Linked DNA regions of Homo sapiens. The protein of the gene in region 1 interacts with the protein of each later gene in a biochemical or structural test. Each region holds a gene or a part of one and is shown on either strand. Other genes may lie near its edges.

Region 1 (7,102 bases):
GTCTCCTAAATGCAAATAGAATAGTTGACAGTTATTTTTTTTTAAAAAGTTCTTCTGTCATGTTAATGACACAAAACTTCTCTTTTTTGAAGGCAACACCACCACATTTTGTTTGGGTGTGTGGGGACAGGTGGGGGGAATGCTCTTAAAATTGGTACAATTATTCCTAAAACAACAACAACAACAAAAAAGTACCTCTTTGGTGAAGCCTCGGTACCCATTCAGTTCACCGTAATAATCTGTAAACAGGCCTGTAGTACAGTGCCGGGCCTTGATTTCAACAAGGTCAGGTACCACAGCCTTTCCTCACAGTCCTTTGAGTGATTTTTAAGAAAATATTCTAAAGTAGAAGAGTAAAGCAAAGGAAAACAAAGGAAGATATTAAGATCCCTGTTTAAGTTTTTTTTTTTAAAAGTGCATAATTTGAATTACAAAAACTGTCATGTGGGCCTGCTGGACACTAGACTGTGTTTTCCATCCCTTTAATGATCACTTCACAAAAGATCACTTCACAAAAAGAGGACTCCTGCCTATTGGCCAGAAAAAGTCCCTTTATGATTTTCAGGTGCAATCAGTTGTCCAATTCCTCTAGGTCGGTCTTTCCATATTCTAAACTGGAATACCATTTCCATTGTATAATTACATCTAGGTTAAAATTCATTGTCTTATACTGCATCTTGAAGAAGAGTCGTTAGTGTTTGGAGTTCTCATTTTAACTCCTCAGTGCTGGCACATTCAGTGCATCCATTGCCAGCAATGGATTTGGGGCTAGGAAAATATACATCCCAGTACAGAGGAACTCAGGAAGAATGGGCATTCTCCAACAGTGGTGGTCCATCTCTGTGCATGGATGGGTGTGTGTGCTCCCTTTTGTAAGTTTTTGGAGGGAGTTTAGGGATATGTTGAGAAGTGCTTTGTCGTGGAGGAACAGGCGGCCCAGCAATGGAATGAAGGTCCACTTCTTGTGTCAATGGTGGTGATGGCAGATGCCTTCTTGTGCCGTGAGGAGAAGGTGTTTGAGGAGGAGGTGGTGTAAAGGGGGAAGGGCTGTTTGGGAAGAAGGCATTGCCATGGTCACTTTTTTTGCCCAAAGGGGGAGGTTGGAGATGTAGTGGTGAGCTTGAGAAAACATCAGGTGTCCTCACAGGTTCTCGTGGTGGTAATAAGGGAGGGCTTTCAGGAGGGTCTGAGATAGAGGTCCGGTCTGATATTGAATATCGTGGTGAATAGGCTTTTGATGTGGGTTGCCTAGGAGGAATGGCTGGGGGACTGTCCAAATGCTTAGACATAATCTAACAAATGAAAAGAATAAAATACACATTTATTAATAAATTTATGAAGTATCATGACTATAAGAATTAAGTTGGGGTTTTCAAACATGCTATTGGCAGGATGCTAAGTGTGGAACAGGGAGTTTTGCCATATGTTTTCTTTTTAATTAAAAAAAAATTTTTTTTTTTGAGACAATGCCTTGCTCTATTGCCCAGACTGGAGTGCAGTGGTGCAATCATGGCTCACTGTAGCCTCAACTTCCTGGGCTCAAGTGATCCCCCGACCTCAGCATCCCAAGCAGCAAGGACCACTGGCATGTACCACCATGCCTGGCTAATTTTTTTCATTTTTTGTAGAGTCAAGGTCTTGCTCTGTTGCCAAGGCTGGCATATGTTTTAAATGGGAGGTTCTGTCAATTCATAGAAAAAAAAAGTTTGCCGTAGTTTTTACTTAAATTTTTTTCCTCAAAATTTTGTTTGCTACTGCTTGCTTAGCTTATCACTCAATCTAAGATCATTTCTAATTTAGCATAAAGTACCTATTTTATAATTTTAAGTTAACTATGTTAACATTCATGAAGTTCTACAAAGAGTGTCTTGTCTTGACTTATCCTGGTGCTCTGCACTCTGGACAGCTTAAGAACTAATGAATTAAGTTTAACAGCTGGCCAAAAAGAAAAAAACAAAATTAAATAAGTAGAAATAATAGCTATTTTGAGCCTTTGGGGTCTCTTCCAAACCCAGAATTTTCATGAAAACTCCATTTAAAAGTATGTCAGATTTACTATTAAGGGCTCAGATAAGTAAATTTTAGCATATGTCAAAATACAGTTTGACTTATAATGTGCCTTCATACAAAGCTTCAGGACTTTCTCTGTATGCTTTTAAAGAACTGCTTGAAACCAAATTCCTCTTACTTTACAGATTAAAACTTTTGTTTTTTTCTGAAAATAACCATAGCCTTAGGTTTACAAGGGTCTTGAATGCATACCAAAAAACTACCTTCAGAAGAAAGAAACATTACTGCATGCTAAATCTATATGTAATCCTTGTTTAAACTATTAAGCCTGTATACTCTGAAATGTTAACTTATCCTAGTGAGAACTAAACTAGACAGCCGTTTATTATAATGAACTGTAATGATTCCAATTTCTACACAACAAGATTTCTTACTTTACCTTAGATGGTGAAGATTCTGCTGGGGCAGATTCTGGTCGTCTTCGTGGAGGAACAGGAGGAGGGACAGGCACTTCATCAGTGCCTTTGGTTAAACTTATAGATGATACAGAAGCAGATCCTGTGGGATGTTAAATTTTTAAGAAAAAGTCCACAGGAATTTTATTTCATTTATTTACCTTGAAAAGTCTTAGCTGGAAATTGCTTATAATTAAAAGTAATGTGTAGAAATACCAAAAGCTGTTCAATAAACCAATACCGAATAGTATTTCATTAAAGCAAACTGCCATAAAAGCATGCAGACATTTTTTAGCAGAATATTTAGAAAAAAGCTGCCTAAGGTATTCTGTTATTTTGCCTGAACAAAATAACATTCCCATGGTTACTCTATTATTGAAATTTTTAATTGAGTCTGATTCTCAGATGTCTGGGAGACAGTGAGCTACTGAAAATCTTTGGAATGGTAATTTTTAGATTCTATAATGGGTTCATTTTTTTCTTTGACTTTATTAGAATTTATAGAACTTCCCCACCTTACTGGATAGTCCCTGGGAGTAGAGTGTGTGCTCTTAACCACTCTCTCCAATGTCTCTCCCTAGCATTTCTCTCAAAGGATGCAAGGGAAAGAATCATAGTGTCTAGGTGAGGGGCCTCTCCTCATTTTGTTTAGTTATAGGCTCCCCTTTGCCTGTAAGCAAAAAGAGGCTCATTATACTCTAAATCCAAAAATTTTAACGGTGATGGCACTATTCAAGACAACGGAGGCAGCCCTGACCATGAAAACAGAAATTACACTAAAATCTAGTGAATCTGATTTAAGAATAAGTTGGTGGACTGGCACAAAAAAAGTAAGTAAAGCTACTAATTAGAACCTCTCTTACAGACATTTATGGTAACAAGAACATAAGGTAGGCATATAAATACACTTTGGAAAACAACACTTAAGTTAGTTGTTTATACCTACTATAAAAAAAGATGTGAAAAAAATACTTAAACCATCATTCAAAATTATAGTTGGCAGTTTTTTTTCCCTTTAAGCATTAAGCTTTTTATTTTGTCACATGTTATAAAATATAGAACTTAAAAAGAGTACTTTGTGTACTGATATTATTTAAATGATCAACATTTTGATCACCTACCTTTTTTCTTAAGAATATAGTTAATTCAGCTTGTAACTAGTATTTTCCATTGTACATATTTTGAAATTGTATGAAAGGACAGCAAAAAAATATTAGCTTAAATAATTAAAATAATGGAATTTAGTGACTTGTTAGTTTACCTTACAATTAAAATGGAACTTTATTTTGTTTATCAGTATTTAGGCTATACTTTGAATAATTACAATTATAAGAAAGTTCTTCTAAAGTCAAAAGCAGTTGTCTATAATCTATCCTGCCATCAGGCTAAGTATATTTTGTGATTTAGAAACTGCATGTAGCTGCCAGCATTCCCATATGCGCATGCATGCTCTTGCCTTTTTTTTTTTTTCAAAGTTGAGCATTAAAATATACTTAGAACTCTATAGTTGGAAAAAAGAAATGGTTAAATGTGGAAGCCACTTATTTAATATGTTCTTTTAAGAGAGAAACAAGGTTTTATAAAAAGCATGAGAAATATATAAATTTAAGCAAATCACTTATGATCTAAAGATAGCACAAGTGAAGGCCTCACTTCTAGGATGTTGCAAGCAAGGTACCAATGCTGCCAGACCCAAGAAGAGTTTTAGCAGGAAAGGTTACACTTGGTTTGATTTTTAAAGCCAAAGCAAGAATTATGAGTCTTAAACCAAATATACTAACTTGGGCCATGGGGCAGAGTAACTTGGATAAAGACGGTATCATTGCCTGTGAAAGGAAACAAGAAAAAGTAGATTTTTTTCTTTCATTGATATATTCAACTCATCTGCAAAAATTTGTATTATGATGAAAATGTTATTGTCATTGTCGTTTTAAAGAATGCTGTAACAGTTTATAGTAAAACCTCATTACTACTTACTTTTGAGAAGAAAAAAATGATATCATATTGGGAATTTAAGATTCCTTTTAGCTTTACTTGATTTCATAATTATTAAATGAAAAACATTCATAAAAAAATCGTATATTACTGAAAGACTTTTTAAAATGTAGAAACCCAATTCAAGCAAAAAGTTCAGCTGGATGTATATAAATATGCCATTTAGTAAATATTATTTTGAAAACTCAAACTTGTGAAACAAGTAATAAGTTTATTTTATGTAAGTTGAAAAATAAAAAAGTTACTAATTATATGTCTTTCAAAAATGTTCTTGGGGCATATATTCTCATCACAAAATAACTAGCACTTTGGATATAAAACAAGCTTGAAATTGATACAGGGTTTTTCCTTTTATAGTCATAAACATTTTTTTTAAAGTCATTAAACATTTGGTGCCTAGACTCATTTTACATAGGAAATTCTGATAAATTTAAATTTAGAAAGTCTAATTTCAACAATATTAATTATTTTAAGGAAAAAACTGAAAATCAAAAGCGAAAGCCCCAAGAGCATTAAAGTAGGAAAATTGAGACAAAAAGCTAGGTGATCTATACTGATTCTAAATCAATATAGTTGTTTGTTTGTACAGTGTCTCATATTAACAACAGATGGAACAGATAACGTTATAACATCCAAGAGACTAAAATAATACTAGACTGTGGTAATTTTTTTTAAATTCAGATTTCGTTTTTTTTTTTTTGCACAATAGGCAATCCCTCACATAATTTGGAATATTAAGTTTATTCAAGCATATTTGGTCAGAAGGAGGGTGATCTCACATTCCAGATTTCTAGGCAGCCCTAATTTCAAATAATCTGTCCCATTATCTGATTTCCGTATGTACTGATATTTATTTGGAACCTATGATTCCTAAGTGTAGCAATCCAGCTAATTCTAATATTACCTTTCAGAAGATTAAAATTCATTTTTCTACTCTGAAATTACATGAAGCTGTTGCTCTGCCGATGATTTTCTTCCCTATTAGCCACCTATAATTGAAGATTGCCTGGTTGTAAAAGGGAGCCAGAGATCTGACGTAATAGAGATTAAAGGAGTATCTAGCTCTAGCGTTTACCCTACTTATATATGTCCCACTTTTCCTGGAAAAGAAATAAACATATCTCCTGGAGATATGCCTCAAGAACATGATAGTACACTTAATACAATACAGGAATAGGAGTAAAATCAAAACACAAGCTCATGACTGTTACAACTATAGTCTTTAATTGTACATATGCATGCACACTTGTGTACACAGATGTAAACTTGGCTTTGAGTATATTTATATATAGCACAGGCTTAGACTCATGCATTTGGTAAATTTGGGGCACTAGTTGTCTTATTGCCTGGAAAATACTATAGAAATTCTTTTAGAATTTTACATGCACTAATCAAGAAATATATGCTAGAAATTCTTGTCAGTTAGATACTGAGTAAATTTACTGATAATGACTTAGAAGTGAAATCTAATTAATTTAAAAAACAGTATTAATTTATTAAGCATAATCCCAGATGACAGACAAATGGTCCTCAATCTTGGCTGTACATTAGAATCCTATGGGAAGTTTTTAAAAAATACTGATACCAGGTACCAATGCCAGTCTAGTGTGGGCTGGGCCTACATATTTTTTTTAAGCTCCTCAACAGATGATACTATACAGTCAGGGTTGAAACCACTCTTAAAGATACTCCCCAGTTTATAAAGGAGTCATTCTTGATAGAAACAAGCATTTTTCTATAGAAAAAAAAAAAAAGATATGATAGATAACTTCTTAAACTCACAAAAGCCTGGTAAATGCAAATATATTTGGGATTAGAAACTCATCACCTACAGCAATCTTCCAGGAGGAAAAGCCTTGCGTTATCAGCTTGACATACTTGTAATACATTCTTTTTGTTGTTAAAGAGTCCCCTAAGGGATGGAAATGGAGAAGTCAGACCTCTGACTCCCTTTTATGACCAGGCAATCTTCAAACAGGAAGGTAAAAAGAGCATTTCATCATTTTCTCCTCTCTATTATAGCAGCAGAAACAAGTAGTGAGCCAGTGGTCTTTTCTCTTTTCTCAGCAACTGTCGTCATCACCTCAAAGGTGGACCTGGCCAGGGCAAGGTGTGGAGCAGGGCTTTGAATGTATGTGTGGCAGCACTAAGTACGTGGCCACTTCTCTGCCCTGTCTTTGCCACAACGCTTTCCATGACCACTCTTGCTCATTCTGAGGTCATCTTTCTATAAGCTTCTCCAGTATTTATGTCTTTACCACTATTTTTAGCGTTTAACTGTGAATCTCTTTGCACTATGATTATTTTTAATCTCTCAGTAAGACTGCAAGCTTTCCCAGTGAAGACGTGTAAGTGTTTAGCAAGGAATAAGATATGCAGCAGATACTGGCTGAAATAATTAATTATAGGTTTTTAAAAGTAGATTATTTTGGGAAAAAACCGTAAGAGTAAAAAAAGAATAGTATAGTATTATAACTGATAAAAAAAAATTCTAGTCAAACTCTGCCTTTTGAAAAACTTAAACAATGGAACTTTGTACTGCTTTGAGTGGAATATGTTGGGATGACATATGACTGCAGTCAAGGCAGTTCTTTTCTGCCAGGCCCTGAGGGAAACAAGGAAATAGGTATTCACTCTGGTGG
Region 2 (7,000 bases), on another chromosome or scaffold:
AGGGCTGCCTTTCTAACCTTCCCATCTCCATCCCTGGATCTTTTTACCAGTTAGAAGCTGCAGCAAGGATGGCAGCTTCATTCAGCACCTAACTGCCTGTACCCCACCCACCCAGGAGTCAGGCAACTCCTCAATCCCTTTTTCATTCCTCAGGGAAAGCATACTGAGTCTTCTTTGACTTAAAAACAAAAAACCTCACCAAAATAGGCTCTGCTATTTCTTCTCTTCCCACCCTGGCCCGCCCCCCATTCCTGACAGTGCCTTACATCACAAACTAAGTCCTCTTAACACAGCAGGCAGCCCACCTGCCACTCTCCTCTCCAAGGTTTCCCTACAGGGGTGAGGAGCAGGAGGAGTAAATAACTTAGTTACAATACCATTGAGACGAAAAATAATACTGCTATTTTTAACATGATCCCCTGTATCTTTCAGGCTGGGTCATGTTCCCAGCCATGGGCAATGTGCCCTTGTGCTGTGTCCTCCTCCTCAGGCAGGGCAGAACCCTTCTCCATGCAGGCCCTACATTCCTCTGCCCTGGCTCCAGGGCCAAACTGCAGGGGCATCTAGCTTCTCACCCTGCCCAGCTGTGGTTTTAAAGCTACAGGACAATGTAAACTTTGTTTCCCTGGCCCAGCAAGGCTCCTCCTCCTCCTCCACTCTTAGGAATGTCAGTAGCTCCTTGGAGTCTCCTGTGCCACTGGCTGAGGCAGCCTCTCTCTCCAAGGGGCTTCGGCCATGGTCCTGGCCCCACAAGATGGAAGGATCCATCTCCAGAAGTCAGGGCCAGATGTGTGTGCTTAATGCGAAACACAGTACAGTTTTTGCCTTCATCCAGAGCTGGGGCATGGAGGCCCAAAACAGTAATAACATCTCATTAATGGCTTGGTTTCTGTCTAGCATTCACTGCTGGAATCCAGGCTTCAGGCTGCGAGACCCGGAAGGCCGCCACAGGGGGCTGCTTCCAAAGAACCCAGTTCGCGGCATTCTACAAGGCGCACAGCACCTGCTGCTCTCCAACGAGGCTGGGGTACAACTAGAGGCGGTTGTCTCCATTGACCCGAGTCCTTCTTGGGGCCCTGGACAGAAGGGAAGAGTGTCCTTACTGGCAGGCAGGGCCTTGCAGCCCAATGCCAGACAATATTACAACTTTTCTACCCAGGAGAAAGAAACACTGAAGAAGGAGGACCTAGCCACTGCCTTCCTGGCTCTAGCACCCCTCCATCTTCCTCACCTTCGTTCTCGACTGTCAAAATGGTCTGCGAGATGCTCCTGGGAGATGCGGAAGTCCTCAAACGGCTGCTGGTAGCGGGATTCAAAGGAGCCTTCCCGGGCTCGGCCATGAAACAGCTGGCCTGAGGCATCTGAGCCCCGCTCCCGCAGGGACGTACCACTGAAGGGACTGAGGTCACCATTCTCCTGCTTCAACGAAGCCAGGTGCACAAGAGGGTCAATGACTCCTCTGCACTTCTAGAGGCTGCTGCCTGGCTCTCCTCCCACCTACCCCAGGCCAGCCCACCCCTGCTGCAGATACCTTGGCAGGGAAAATGTCAATCTTGATCAGCAGGGAGGCCAACTCCAGGTCCTCACTGTAGTTGTTCTTCAAAGGCACTGCTCTGTATCCTAGGAGGAGGAAAAGCCTGGCCCTCAGCCCACGAGGGACAGAGCAAGGGGCCCAGCCCCACCCTGCCAGCAAGATTGCAGGGGCACTGCCTCCAGGAATGGTCCTCACCTGTCTTCAGGCCTTTTACTGGGAAAGTAGCCTGAGCCAGGAAATTCTGGTCACTAAACATGTCTTCCTCATACACCACGAAGCGCAGAAAGGCAAATTCAGGGTTACTGATCTGGAAGTGGAAGGGCTTGGCTGGCCATACAGGGTTGAGTCCATTGTCCACTGTGAAGGCAACGACAAAAGGCTTCAGGTCACCGTGGGAGAGGATGGGATGACTGGTGGGGAGAGGCTTGCAGTGCCCCAGCAGGATGAGGAGGATGACTGGGAAGACAGACTGACCCACAAACTCTGTCTTCTGCTTGGTGCTGTCATACTCAGCTCCAGCCACCTCAATCTCCACAAAAGGACACACAATGCCTCGGCCATTCTTTGGCAGATGTCGGGCCCCCAGCACCTGTAGGCAGACAAAGAAGGGCCTGGGATTGTCCTTCCTGCTCCCTCCAATTCCCCACTGCGGAGGCTCAGTCAGCATCTGTGGAGTGGAGGCAGCGCGCCCTCTGCTGGGCCCCCGGGACACTGCCCATGGAGTCCCTCACGACATCAGGGACCCTAAGCTGTCCAGAGCAGCTGCTGCCTGTAGTTTATCTGAAGTCTGAGCTTTAGCCAAAATTTCCATGTGAGTTTTGCAATCTACTTCATGTTAAATCCATTACTATTTTAACACAGAAATCTTTTAAATGACCTCCCCTTAGGGAAAAAAAAGATCTCATCAGAACAAAACAAGTCATCAGAACAAGTCACACCATGGCTCTGCACGTCCTAGATGCATACAGTGACTGCATGCTATCTTCACCCCTTCAAAGACTCAGCTCAGGCCCCACCCACCCTGACCACCTTGATGCCTGAAAATACCTACTTTTGGAGAACTCAACATAAACAGACTCCAACGGCAAGCAGCCCCTTTCCTACCCTGAAGCCCAGATGAGCAGCACCCACCTCAATAGAGATGGCACATGGCTCCAGCCCGCGGAGGCTGCTCTTGTCAAAGGGGTCGAAGGCCTCATCCCGCATGGTGCTTGGCTGCAGCACGTAGCCACAGTGCCTGCCCGTCATGAAGAGGGCCTGGTTCATCTGCATAGGCTTGTCTGGAAGAGGCAGATTATGGTGTATTCCAGTCCAGCTGCCCCACAGTGCCCCTCCTCACCCTCCTCACAGGGGACTTCCTCACCAGGGGTCTGGAAGTTGAGGGCCACAAGCTGACTGCCACAGATCCACATGGGCAAAGGATCGTAGTTGGAGGAATCCAGTCGCTGGCCCTTGGGGTAGATGCGGGAGAGCTGCAGTCGATTGTACTGAAGGAACTTCTTGCCTTTGGCCTTGTTCACGTATTTCTCAGCCTTGGTTTCCGGGAAGGATGACATGTCCCGGTAGCAAGCACGTTCTGTGCCAATCTCTGGGCCAAACAGGGAAAACACTTACAGAGCCCGCCCACCCAGGAAGTGTTGGGGGGATACCTAAATACTCTTTTTGCACCCACCAGGCCCTCCAGGCACATGCACACCCCGCCTGGGCCCTGGCCCTTACTCTCTTCATCAAAGGGAACAGGCCGGCAGTAGACGACAAGTTCAGAGAGCTCCAGGGCAATCTTCTTCCTCCGTTCCATTATCTTCCCTTCAGTGAGCTGGTGACACACACAAGGCCCTGTAGCCCCAGGCTACAGCCCTGCCCAGGAGAAGGAAGCCCCTGCCAACCTTGGGCATGCCCACACTGCAGGTGCTCTGGGCCCCTCTCCCACCTTCCCCTGTACCTTCCAGACACCACACCCAACAGTAAATGAGGGAGCTCTGTCCTCAGCCTCATCCTGAAATCATCTTTCCTCTTTTCTGTCCCAGAGGACACATTTGCCCTCCAACCCTCTTAGGGGGGGTGGGGGATACAGACTCCTCATCACCACCCATGTTCCCAGTGACCTTCCAGGGATCCTGGAATTGGCCACACTCCCAAATGACACTTTCTGACCATTTATTACCCAGCCTCATGCTGGGGTAAAAATGATTCTTCTGTGTTACCTGTGACTGCACTGGGGATACAGGCCCCTGGCTTGGTTTCCATCTGTGTCCTAAGGATGATCCTCACTGCCTCAGCGCCCCCAACTCAAATATAACCACCCACTCTTCATGGCAAATCTCCATGCCAAATCTCTACAGAAGCCCACTTACAAGCACCCCAACCCATCCTCTCCTGGAGGACTTTCTTTCAGTGGCTTTTTTTTTTTTTTTTTTTTTTTGAGACAGAGTCTTGCTCTGTCGCCCAGGCTGGAGTTCAGTGGCGTGATCTCGGCTCACTGCAATCTCCACCTCACGGGTTCAAGCGATTCTCCTGCCTCAGCCTCCCGAGTAGCTGGGATTACAGGTGCCGGCCAACATGCCCGGCTAATTTTTGTATTTTCAGTAGAGACAGGGTTTCACCATATTGGCCAGGCTGGTCTCGAAGTCCTGACCTCAAGTGATCTGCCCATCTCGGCCTCCCAAAGTGCTGGGATTACAGGCGTGAGCCACCACGCCCGGCCTCAGTGGCTCTTACATTCAGACTCTTCCCTTTTCAGCCTAGACCCCCAGATCCAGTCCTTCAACCACCTGGTATGCCAGCACCTTTTCCTTCTAGGGGACAGCCTGGCAAGCACCCTATCCCTTCTCTATTTGGCTTGCGGGTGCCCTCTCCAAAGCAGCTACAGACCCATCTACCAAATGCACTTGGTGAAAGGGCCACCAAGTAGGAATTCCCTAACCCTTGAGAATACTTCTCTGTTCCCCCAGGCTCAGGGGAAGAGGCCACCTTCTCCAGAAGGCTGGTCCTACCAGCTAAGCTTGGGCTCCATCTCCTCCCACACGCTGCTCGCTCCTTTCAGCCATCTGCATGAGAGCCTGCTCAAACCCCAGTCACCTGTTCTCTCCCTCAAGGACAGGCCCTACAAAGGCTCTGCTTTTGCCATTCCAGACTCCCTGCTGCCCACTGCCATCTAATGCCAGCCATGCTGCTGATGCAGCTCAAAAGTCTCACAAGGGCTATTAGCTGCTGCTGAATCCAAAGGGCACTTGCAAGTTCTTATCGTTCCTGTCTTTACCTCTGTAGCTCTCAACACAGCAGACCCTCTCCCTCACCAGTGGCCTGCAGTCTGTCTGACCTGCCTTTCCTGGGCTCCTTTCCTCGCCCATGCCTTCTCATATGGAGCTTCTCAATCCATCCCAAGTTCTCTTCCTATGCGACACCACCTCATCCCTTCTATGCCTCAGCCCCCACTCCACTCCTGCTTCCAGCCCAGGACTTCTCCTCTTACCTCTGGTCTTGTGTATCCAATTGCCCACTAAGCAGACCCACTTCAACGACCCATCAGTATCTCAAACTCAACACAACCTAAACACACCACATTGCATCTTATGTGTCTGTTTCTTCTCAATCCCTAGCTAAGGCAGGGGCTGTGGCCTATCTAGCATAGGCCATCGGCTGCCCCACTGCTCTGAGGGGGCCTGTGCTGGGAGCTGGAGGCCTCAGCTGCCTGACGGGCCCACACACTGCCCCCCAGAAGGTTCCAGCAGAATCTCACCCTGGCGTCTGCTGTCTGGGCCACTTCACGGATCTTTTTCACCCAGTCCTGCAGCTCCTCCTGTGAGTCGGCAGCAACATCCAGGGACCAGTGGGCCACCGACGCCATGCTGATGGAGAAGACGAAGAGCCGGTTGTTCTTGCCCTCAGGACGGATGGCTGGGAGGGCGAGAGCAGATAACAGCTGGGAATAGACATCTCACCCCCTCCACCCCACTCCACACCGCAGGCACTGGCTCAAATGAGTTCTATCTCATCCCATTTCCTCCTTCCCACACCCCATGAGGGGAAGGACTACTCTGCTGGCCCATTTGACAGATGACGACGCTACAACTCAAACAAGTCACTGCTGGTTGTGGTGGAGCCAGTGTTCCAACTCAGCTCTGACTCATGCTTCTTCCTCAGGCCGTGTCTCCCTCTCCACCCCATCTCCAAGCCTCTGTCACATCCCTGTGGTACAACCCATTAGGCCTGGGGATGTCAGCCAACCAGCAGCATCAACTTTGTTCTGCTGATTCTGACGGGTTCCCCAGTGCCTGGCATAGGTAAACATGCAGGGGTCAAAGCTGACAGTGACAAAGGGAGCCCAGGGTGTCAAGGGGATGTCCAGAGCATGGGGAGAGCTTGGAGTGAGGGCAGACTTTGGGGTTCAGCCATCAGCTTCCTCCCTAGGAGCAGGAAAGAGATACAAAGAAGAATCTCACCCTAGGGAACAGTGGGCAAGAGAAACAGATGGGAGCTCACCAATCTGACAAGCCGGCACATCCAAGACCCCCCGCAGCAAGTCCCCTAGGGGGCTGTTCTCGTCCAAGTGCTGTGGGAAGCAAAGCCCACCAATGGTCAGCATGGCTACTGCATATGTGTGTGAGGGGATATCCGTGTGCATGGGACAAATACATCTTGTGGGTGTACCTGTGACTGCCAAATGTAGCACAGGTATATGGGAGACTACGTGCATGGCCACATGGGCTGTGCGACCAGCCCATGTGACAGGTGTCTGTGCATGCACGTGCGTGCTTGGGACTGTGTGATGGGGGCATGCCAAGGAGAATCTGGGAATAGGGAATGCTGTTACTCAGGTGGTTCTGGTCTTACCTCCCTCTCCGGCTCCAGGGCCACGGGGTTGACCATCTCTTCCACGTAGTTTGATGGGAACCACAGCTGCTTCTTCCCTCCGTAGTCCCCTCGCCACCTGTGGGAGCCACAGGGTGCTGACCTCCAGCAACCACCCCGAACTCCCATGAGGAGGGTATCCTTTGGTAGGGGTTCCCATGCCTAAGCCAGGGTGAGGCAGGCACTGCTGGTGCACACAGGAGACAAGCACATCACAAATGCATGTCTTTGGGGCCCCAGCTCCACTGGGGCCCTTGGACTCTGGGCCTACCACACCACTGGCTTACCAGCCTCCCTCTTGCTTCTCCACATTCTGGATGATGGCGCTCTTGATGAAGGTCAGCTCGTCCTCCCTCTGGGCCTTGTAGTCAAAGAGGGCTTTGACTGCACACTGCAGAGGTGAGAAGCACCAGTCAGAGCAGAAAGGCTCTCCCTGCCACTGCCAACCTGGGGCTTCATGTGCACACACACATGTGCTTGGGCTTCCCTGCCTGGGGTCAGGCCAGTGGGAGATGACACTGCCATCAACAGGCCCTAGTTATAGTTCTTGTTACTGCCCTGCAGGGAAGCTCCAGGACAGATATGATCAGAGAGGCAGGGCCTCTGCCAGTGAAA
Region 3 (7,000 bases), on another chromosome or scaffold:
CACTTGAGGAAAAAGAGTCACATATTGCTTTCTCATGCTACATTAATTCCAATAATAGGACACTATGAGTGGGTGACCTGGGACCTAAAACGATTGTTTGTCATTGTGCATACCATACGCTACCTACATGAACAATGATGTCCAACATTAACACGCAAATAAAGTCAATGAAGAAAAGACAGGACAGAAAACAAAAAGAGATCGGAATGGTGACCCACACTACCCCATTTACACATTGAATACTTTTCTTTCTACCATGGTAGCATATCTTTCATAAATACACTAAACAAACGGTGTTGGTTATAGAAATAGGAAAGCATGAGTTGCATGTCTATTTATAGATTTAATTTAAAAGTTTCTTAACAACATCAAAAAATATAAACTTAAAGTATTTTAACCATGTTTTCTGCTGGGAAATGGTAAACAAATGCATGCCTGAAGTTAAACTTGGTCTCTAACATGTTCAGTTGAAAGTTTCTAACTACAGGGTATATTTGCTTGTTTCAAAAAATACTTATGTCTGTTGTTCTTGATACAAAATTCTACACTATCTTCAATAAATAAATAATAAAGTATTTCTTAAAAGTATGAAATGTAAACTTTGTTGTCCTTTCCAACACACACTTTTAAAAAAATTGCTTGAAGTATGACCGGGCTCTCATGGGAAATGATAACACTACACATTCAGTTCCCAGCAAAGGAGGTACTCTGCCACAACGCTGATGCTATCATTTAGAAAGCACTTTGATAACCCTAATTAAAGTCTAAGGACCTACAATCAAAGAGAACACCATCTAGTACAGGAAAGCTAGACTCCAGTACCAACAGAACATGCAAAGGACATTTCATGACCACAACAAACTAGGATTATGAGAATATTAACATGCAAACAAAACACGGCCCCCACTTTTCATTAGCAAATCAAGTTACTATCTAACTAACCAGATGATCTCCTGGCATTTAAGGGAAAAAAAAATTAAAGAACTCAAACCAAACAGCTTGGCACATAGTCATAAAGTCCTGACTCTTGCAACAAGCATATTATGTGAGGTTGGGGTGGTGGAGGGTGGAAAAGTGTCTTAGGTCTTTGCCCCGGGATGTGCGGGGCTTGCATCCTCCTAGGGTCTTTCACCCACCACATAATGGACTGCCTTCATTTTCTTTCCCAACCTCCAGCTTGATATTTTTCCTTTTCACGCCTTGGGGATCTAGGACATGGCTTTTTGGGGAACGTACCAAAAAGAGCTGTTGAAATGTCCTACAACAATCAGGATTCAGCACATTCAAGCACAGAACAGGTCACCAGCAACGACTGCTGCTATGAAATATCACAGGCCTCCGAGCCAAAAGAGATTTTTCCAACATGGCTGCCAACCGAGACCCAGTGACCCAACATTGTAAAGTTGCCTTTCCAGTGACCTGTAGTGATCTGATCCAGCAGAGGGGTGACTTTCTAGATAATGACTTTCTGTGACCATATTCTAAGCATGCTGGGAATCAGAACTGAATCCACGCAACAATACACCAGTGTGTTTTCATTGACATATATTAATACAAGGCCTAGAGGGGGAAGGAACGGCTATAACGGTGCACATGCTGGAAACTTCCATAGACCAGCTCTTCAAAGAGCTAAGCCAGGGCCTGATCAGACCGTCTCACCGAGTGATCAGCTCTAGGCAGCATTTCCCTGCAGGAGAGATGGGATTCTGAAGCAATGACAGGACCGTCATAATTGTTTCTAAACTCACACCAAGGACTGGGCATTGTAGGCCAAGAAGTCTACTTGGGGACTGGTGGATGTAAGAAACAGGAGGGTTACATGAGTTCTCCAAAAATATAGACATTGCATTTATAAATCTATTTTATAGTAACCAGACCCATCCCTCAAGCCCGGGAAGGGGCTAGACTCCCAGCTGCACCCTGTTGAGGGCTATGGGATTTCAGCGACCCTAGAAGCCATAATGAGACCTGTAGTGAGGACAAAGGAAAACACAGCTTTGTTTCATGAAACAGGAAATTGTTTCGGGGCAGGGAGGATTGTCGAGAATGATTCCTAGGAGCTTTGAGGGGCCTGTCTTTGCCATCCCATATCCCTGTGACTGAATACCAAATGGTGGTTTCTTAGAAAAGGAATACAATTTCCAGACAGCATGTGTGGCCGTGGGCTGGGACCCTGCTGAGCACACCCTGAGCCCGCTGCCTACGGCTCATCAAACAACTGCAGGTCCAAGCGGACCACAATCTCTCCCGTGGGGACTTCGTGCAGCAGAAGACACTTCGTAACTGGACCTTTGGAGCCCTGGTCTTTCTTGATGTCCGCCACACGGATCTCCGTCCGACCCAAAAAATCTGAAAAGAGAACAAACAGACCCTCCTAAGAGGGACCATTCCCTCTCTTCGAGGCACATGTCTGGCATATTGGGGACCCCCTGATGAACTGTTATGCTCTCCCTTCTTCTCTGGGCTCTGATGTAAACCAACACTAGGATTTCCAACTCGCTCCCCAGCGGAGTTGCCAATGTGTCATGGTATTTCATTACTTAAATAAAAAAAAAAACCCAACCCCAACCTTTATCTCTCAGAATTAGAAGGTGGCCGGGCACAGTGGCTCGCGTCTGTAATCCCAGCACTTTGGGAGGCCGAGGCAGGAGGATCACTTGAGTCCAGGAGTTTGACACCAGCCTGGGCAATAGAGTGAGACCCTGTCTCTACAAAAAATTTTTAAAAATTAGCCTAGCATGGTGGTTCATGCCTGTCATCCCTGCTACTTAGGAGGCTGAGGCAGGAGGATTGCTTGAGCCTGGGAGGTGGAGGCTGCAGTGAGCTGTGATTGCACCACTGTGCTCCAGCCTGAGTGACAGAGCGAGAACAACAAGAAAAAAGATAAATAAATAAAAAAAATAAAAAGAAAAAAGAATTAGAAGTTGACAGTACACATAGTAGTTAAGAGCCCAGACTTGGGAGCCAAACTGTTCCAGTCACACTCAAACATTTAACCAGCTACCACAACGAGTACCTAACTCACAATGAGATAATTCATATAAAAAGTACTAAAAGATGAAGGCCATATGGAGCCATTTAAACCTTGTACAGATAATGCTAGCATTTGACCCTCACTTCTTCGGTTATAATTAAGTTGAGACCATAATCTTTTAACTTACTCTGTGATTTTTTTTTTTTTGGAGACAGGATCTTGCTCTGTTGCCCAGGCTGGAATATAGTGGTACCATCATGGCTCACTGCAGCCTCGACCTCCCAGGCTCAAGCAATCCTCCTGCCTCAGCCTCCCGAGTAGCTGGAACTACAGGTGCATGCCACCATGCCTGGCTAAGTTTTGTATTTTTTTGTAGAGACAAGGTCCCACTATGTTGCCCAGGCTGGTCTTAGACTCCTGGGCTTAAGCGATCCTCCTGCCTCAGCCTCCCAAAGTGTTGGGATTCCAGGCCTGCAGCACCATGCCCACCGGTGATTTTTATTGGGTTGAGGGAGAGACAGGTAGTTTCTTGGAATCATTGGGCTGAGACTATTCTTTTCCAGGCCCAAGCAGAAACAGAAGGCTGGCTGAAGAAATGATTCATTCAACATGACTGCATCCCTTTGCCTACTTAATAAGTGGTACAAAAATGCCACCCAAAGGGACCTGGCCCATTCTGCGGCTCCTGTTGTGGGCTAACATCCTTGTTCCATTGGCCAGTTTCATCCATTGCCAGCACAGCTTTTTGCCAAGGACTGAAGAACTATGCTGAGGCTCTTAAACACACCCCTCTCCACAGTCACCTGCTTTGGAAAGCAGAAGATGGACGTGTTTGCCCAGGGCAGCTGGCACAATTCTAGACCAAGCATGCTCTGTCCACATGCAATGAGACGCCTCCAGAAGACTCCTCCAGGGGAGACAGAGCCTCGTCTTGTGCCAGCCAGCCTCATCTCTCAGGAGGGAAACCGAAGGAATCCTGGCACCAAGTCCCCAGGTAAGAAAACATTAACCCACGCAAACGAGTGCCAGGGAAGGAGGAATAACCACAGGGCCGCGTTCCACTCACCATCTGGTGAGAACTGGTCCCTCTCGAACACAGTGATGCAGAGGACTTCCTGCTCCAGGTCTCGGATGAAGAACTGGCAGTTGGAATTCCACTTGGGGTTCAGAGTGTCCTGGATCGTCTTGGTGATGTGGCACTGGGAACCCATGGTCACCTCACAGTACGGGTTGCTCTTTCCTGGAGGGAACAAAAGCCTTCGCCAGGTGGAACTCACACCTCATTTTGATCTCCACTCTTTTTTTTTTTTTTTTTTAGATGGATTCTTGCTCTGTCGCCCAGGCTGCAGTGCAGTGGTATGATCTCAGCTCATTGCAACCTCCACCTCCTGAGCTCAAGTGATTCTCCTGCCTCAGTCTCCTGAATGAATAGCTGGTATTACAGGTGGCTGCCCCCATGCCTGGCTAATTTTTTATATTTTTAGTAAAGACGGGCTTTCACCATGTTGGCCAGGCTGGTCTCAAACTCCTGACCTCAGGTGATCCACCTGCTTTGGCCTCCCAAAGCACTGGGATTACAGGTGTGAGCCACCATGCCCGGCCGCTCCCCACTCTTAATAACTGCTATGCTTAATAAGTGTCATTCGGTGGAGAATCCGGGTGGAAACTCCCAGAAGTCAGCTTCATCCTTAAACTAAAAACAAATACTTAATTGAGTGGGCTTTGAAACTAGGCCCTTCCTGTCTCGTTACTTTGGCCTGATCTTGTGTCACATCCACTGTGAATGCAGCCACTCAGATCCCTCGGAGAAGCAGAATGGTAGAAAGGATGGAAAAAAAAACACAAAACCTCCAGGTTTTTAACAAGTGCTAGTTAAACCAATTCTGGAAGGAGATCAGGGAGTATGGAAATAGCACATTTGATCTAGAGCCAGGTGGGGGTGTGGGGAACCCGGACCCTACTCCCAACCCCAAAGCAGGAGCCGGGGGCGCCTCACAGCCTTACCATGTGACCGACAGGGTTTCAACTCGATGCCTTCAACCACGTTCACCATCAACCTTCCAATGCCTGTTGCCCTTTGGGAACGGACTATGACGGCAGGAAAAACACAAAATGCTTCATTTGAACGTGCCACACCTTTCCCATCTCTGTGAGCCTCACAATGCATTTCATGTACCTCTCCCGACTCAAAAGTAATTCTTCCCTCTCCTTAAACACTTGCTTCCTTGCTCCTGGAATTTGCCCTCCATCCCCATCTGCATCCCACCCCAAGCTCACTTCCATCTCATTCCATGCCCCTCCTCTAGGTCCAGGGGATTCTTCTATTCTGAGGATTTTCAGCCCAGCCAAATGGCCCTCCCTCCTGCCCAGCTGTGCAGGACACCCCGCGGGGCCATGCATTACCCAGGTACGCTTTCTCGCGCTTCTTTTTCTCAGTCTCTATGTAGAGTTCAGAAGCAGCTTTGATTTTCTGCACCCAGGCAGTCCTTGGACAGAAAAAGACAGAAAGTTGCCAAACAGAAACTCAGGAAAAAGGCTTCAGGTCTGTTCAAACACTGTTGCCAGGACTCTGTTTCTTTGTTCATTTGATTTTAACAACAAAGGCTCGGGAAAGAAAATCTGATTTTATGTCACGTGACGCTAATACTTATTCCTGCCATCGATAAGAAAGGCATGAGGGCCATTTCCATGGATGTCCTCAAGACCTGCGATGATGTCCCCGGGGAAGAAAATCTGTGATAGATGCTGTCTTGGAGGCAACATCGGGACACGACTCCTCTTCCTTCCTTACCGAAGAGCAGCACATATTTGCCTAATCCAACAAAGCCAGAAGGATCTCGCTTATGAAATCACGCAAAGAAAGAACAAAAACCACTTCCCAGATTGGGAACCACTTCACACGAAAGACCAAAACGCCTTGGGGGAAGGCATTTGTGGCCGCGGTTTTCTCCTTCATTTTTTCTGAGAACCATATGCACAAAAGCTTTAGCCAATTTTCTTGCTTGGTGCAAATGCTCTTTGGAATGATGCTGGCCTTGTGTCAAGTTCACCCTTCAGAAAATGATCTATTTCATTTGGCTCCAGGGCAGTGTCTTGAAGACAGATTGAAGCAAAATACCCACAGCCCTAGGTTCCAGAATGCCCATTTAAGTCAGCCAAGGTGAGGAGAGGTTTGGGTTTGCGTGGTCCTATTAACCCCGAAATTACTTTCCTATTGGTTTCTGCCACCTGGGAAGCCAGGGGAAACCTGAGATGCTCTGTTTACCTCAAAGAATGCGAAACATTTCTTAATAAAACAACAACAACAACAACAACAATGCCAGGTGCAGTGGCTCACCCCTGTAATCCCAGAATTCTGGCATTCTGGGAGGCCAAGGCGGGTGGATCCCTTGAGCCCAGGAGTTTAAGACCAGCCTGGGCAACATGGCAAGAACCCATCTCTACAAAAAAATATAAAGAATTAGCCAGGCTTGGTAGCACATGCCTGTAGTCCCACATACCTGGGAGGCTAGGGTGGGAGGATTACCTGAGCCCAGGAGGTTAAGGCTGCAGTGAGCTGTGACTGCACTACTGCACTCCAGCCTGGGTGACAGAGTGAGACTCTGCCTTAAAAAAAAAAAAAAAAAAAAAAACTCAAGCAAAATTAGTTTGAATCCATGTTATTTTGGAAAGGGCATGCCATGTGACAGATTTTTGAGAGGCTGTAGAAAAAAGTAATAGCCCCATCCCCACTCCCAGCTAGGGGTGATGGCATTGCCACTTGGGAAACATTGGCACCTGATTAATCACCCGCCCCTTGTGTGTCCTAGAGCCGTGGAGCCCTGGGGCCCATGCTGGGGAGGCGGCAGGTCTCACCTTTCATTTATGCTTTCTGCTCGGAGAGTATAGACGCGGTCAATGTGGGAGATGTGGAAGATGGGCTCGTCTCCAGAAGGGTCGGTGGGTAATTTTACTAGAACCTCATTTAGGAAAATAGGCTGGAAAGTAACACACAGGCATTACAAAGCGAGGCTGGGGGTCTGTGTG

The links. The genes of interacting proteins can lie anywhere in the genome.
Region 2: the proteins of SOS1 (region 1) and PLCG1 form a complex in vitro, tested with the Homo sapiens proteins (2 studies listed by BioGRID and IntAct, with this or other methods).
Region 3: the proteins of SOS1 (region 1) and ITSN1 form a complex in vitro, tested with the Homo sapiens proteins (2 studies listed by BioGRID, with this or other methods).

The regions. Positions count from the first base shown.
Region 1 is NC_000002.12:38,985,024-38,992,125, forward strand, and holds part of SOS1 (son of sevenless homolog 1), read right to left. Parts: intron 4,292-7,102; coding exon 4,247-4,291; intron 2,569-4,246; coding exon 2,450-2,568; intron 1,293-2,449; coding exon 801-1,292; 3' UTR 341-800; coding exon of another isoform or gene 287-340; 3' UTR 1-286.
Region 2 is NC_000020.11:41,168,543-41,175,542, reverse strand, and holds part of PLCG1 (1-phosphatidylinositol 4,5-bisphosphate phosphodiesterase gamma-1), read right to left. Parts: intron 6,777-7,000; coding exon 6,673-6,776; intron 6,521-6,672; exon of another isoform or gene 6,465-6,520; coding exon 6,368-6,464; intron 6,087-6,367; coding exon 6,017-6,086; intron 5,432-6,016; coding exon 5,274-5,431; intron 3,351-5,273; coding exon 3,254-3,350; intron 3,123-3,253; coding exon 2,898-3,122; intron 2,815-2,897; coding exon 2,666-2,814; intron 2,124-2,665; coding exon 2,009-2,123; coding exon of another isoform or gene 1,892-2,008; coding exon 1,730-1,891; intron 1,621-1,729; coding exon 1,532-1,620; intron 1,420-1,531; coding exon 1,232-1,419; intron 1,077-1,231; coding exon 1,034-1,076; 3' UTR 1-1,033. UniProt on the Homo sapiens protein: Mediates the production of the second messenger molecules diacylglycerol (DAG) and inositol 1,4,5-trisphosphate (IP3). Plays an important role in the regulation of intracellular signaling cascades.
Region 3 is NC_000021.9:33,883,501-33,890,500, reverse strand, and holds part of ITSN1 (intersectin-1), read right to left. Parts: intron 6,952-7,000; coding exon 6,830-6,951; intron 5,461-6,829; coding exon 5,378-5,460; intron 5,063-5,377; coding exon 4,979-5,062; intron 4,215-4,978; coding exon 4,041-4,214; intron 2,350-4,040; coding exon 2,201-2,349; 3' UTR 1-2,200. UniProt on the Homo sapiens protein: Adapter protein that provides a link between the endocytic membrane traffic and the actin assembly machinery. Acts as a guanine nucleotide exchange factor (GEF) for CDC42, and thereby stimulates actin nucleation mediated by WASL and the ARP2/3 complex.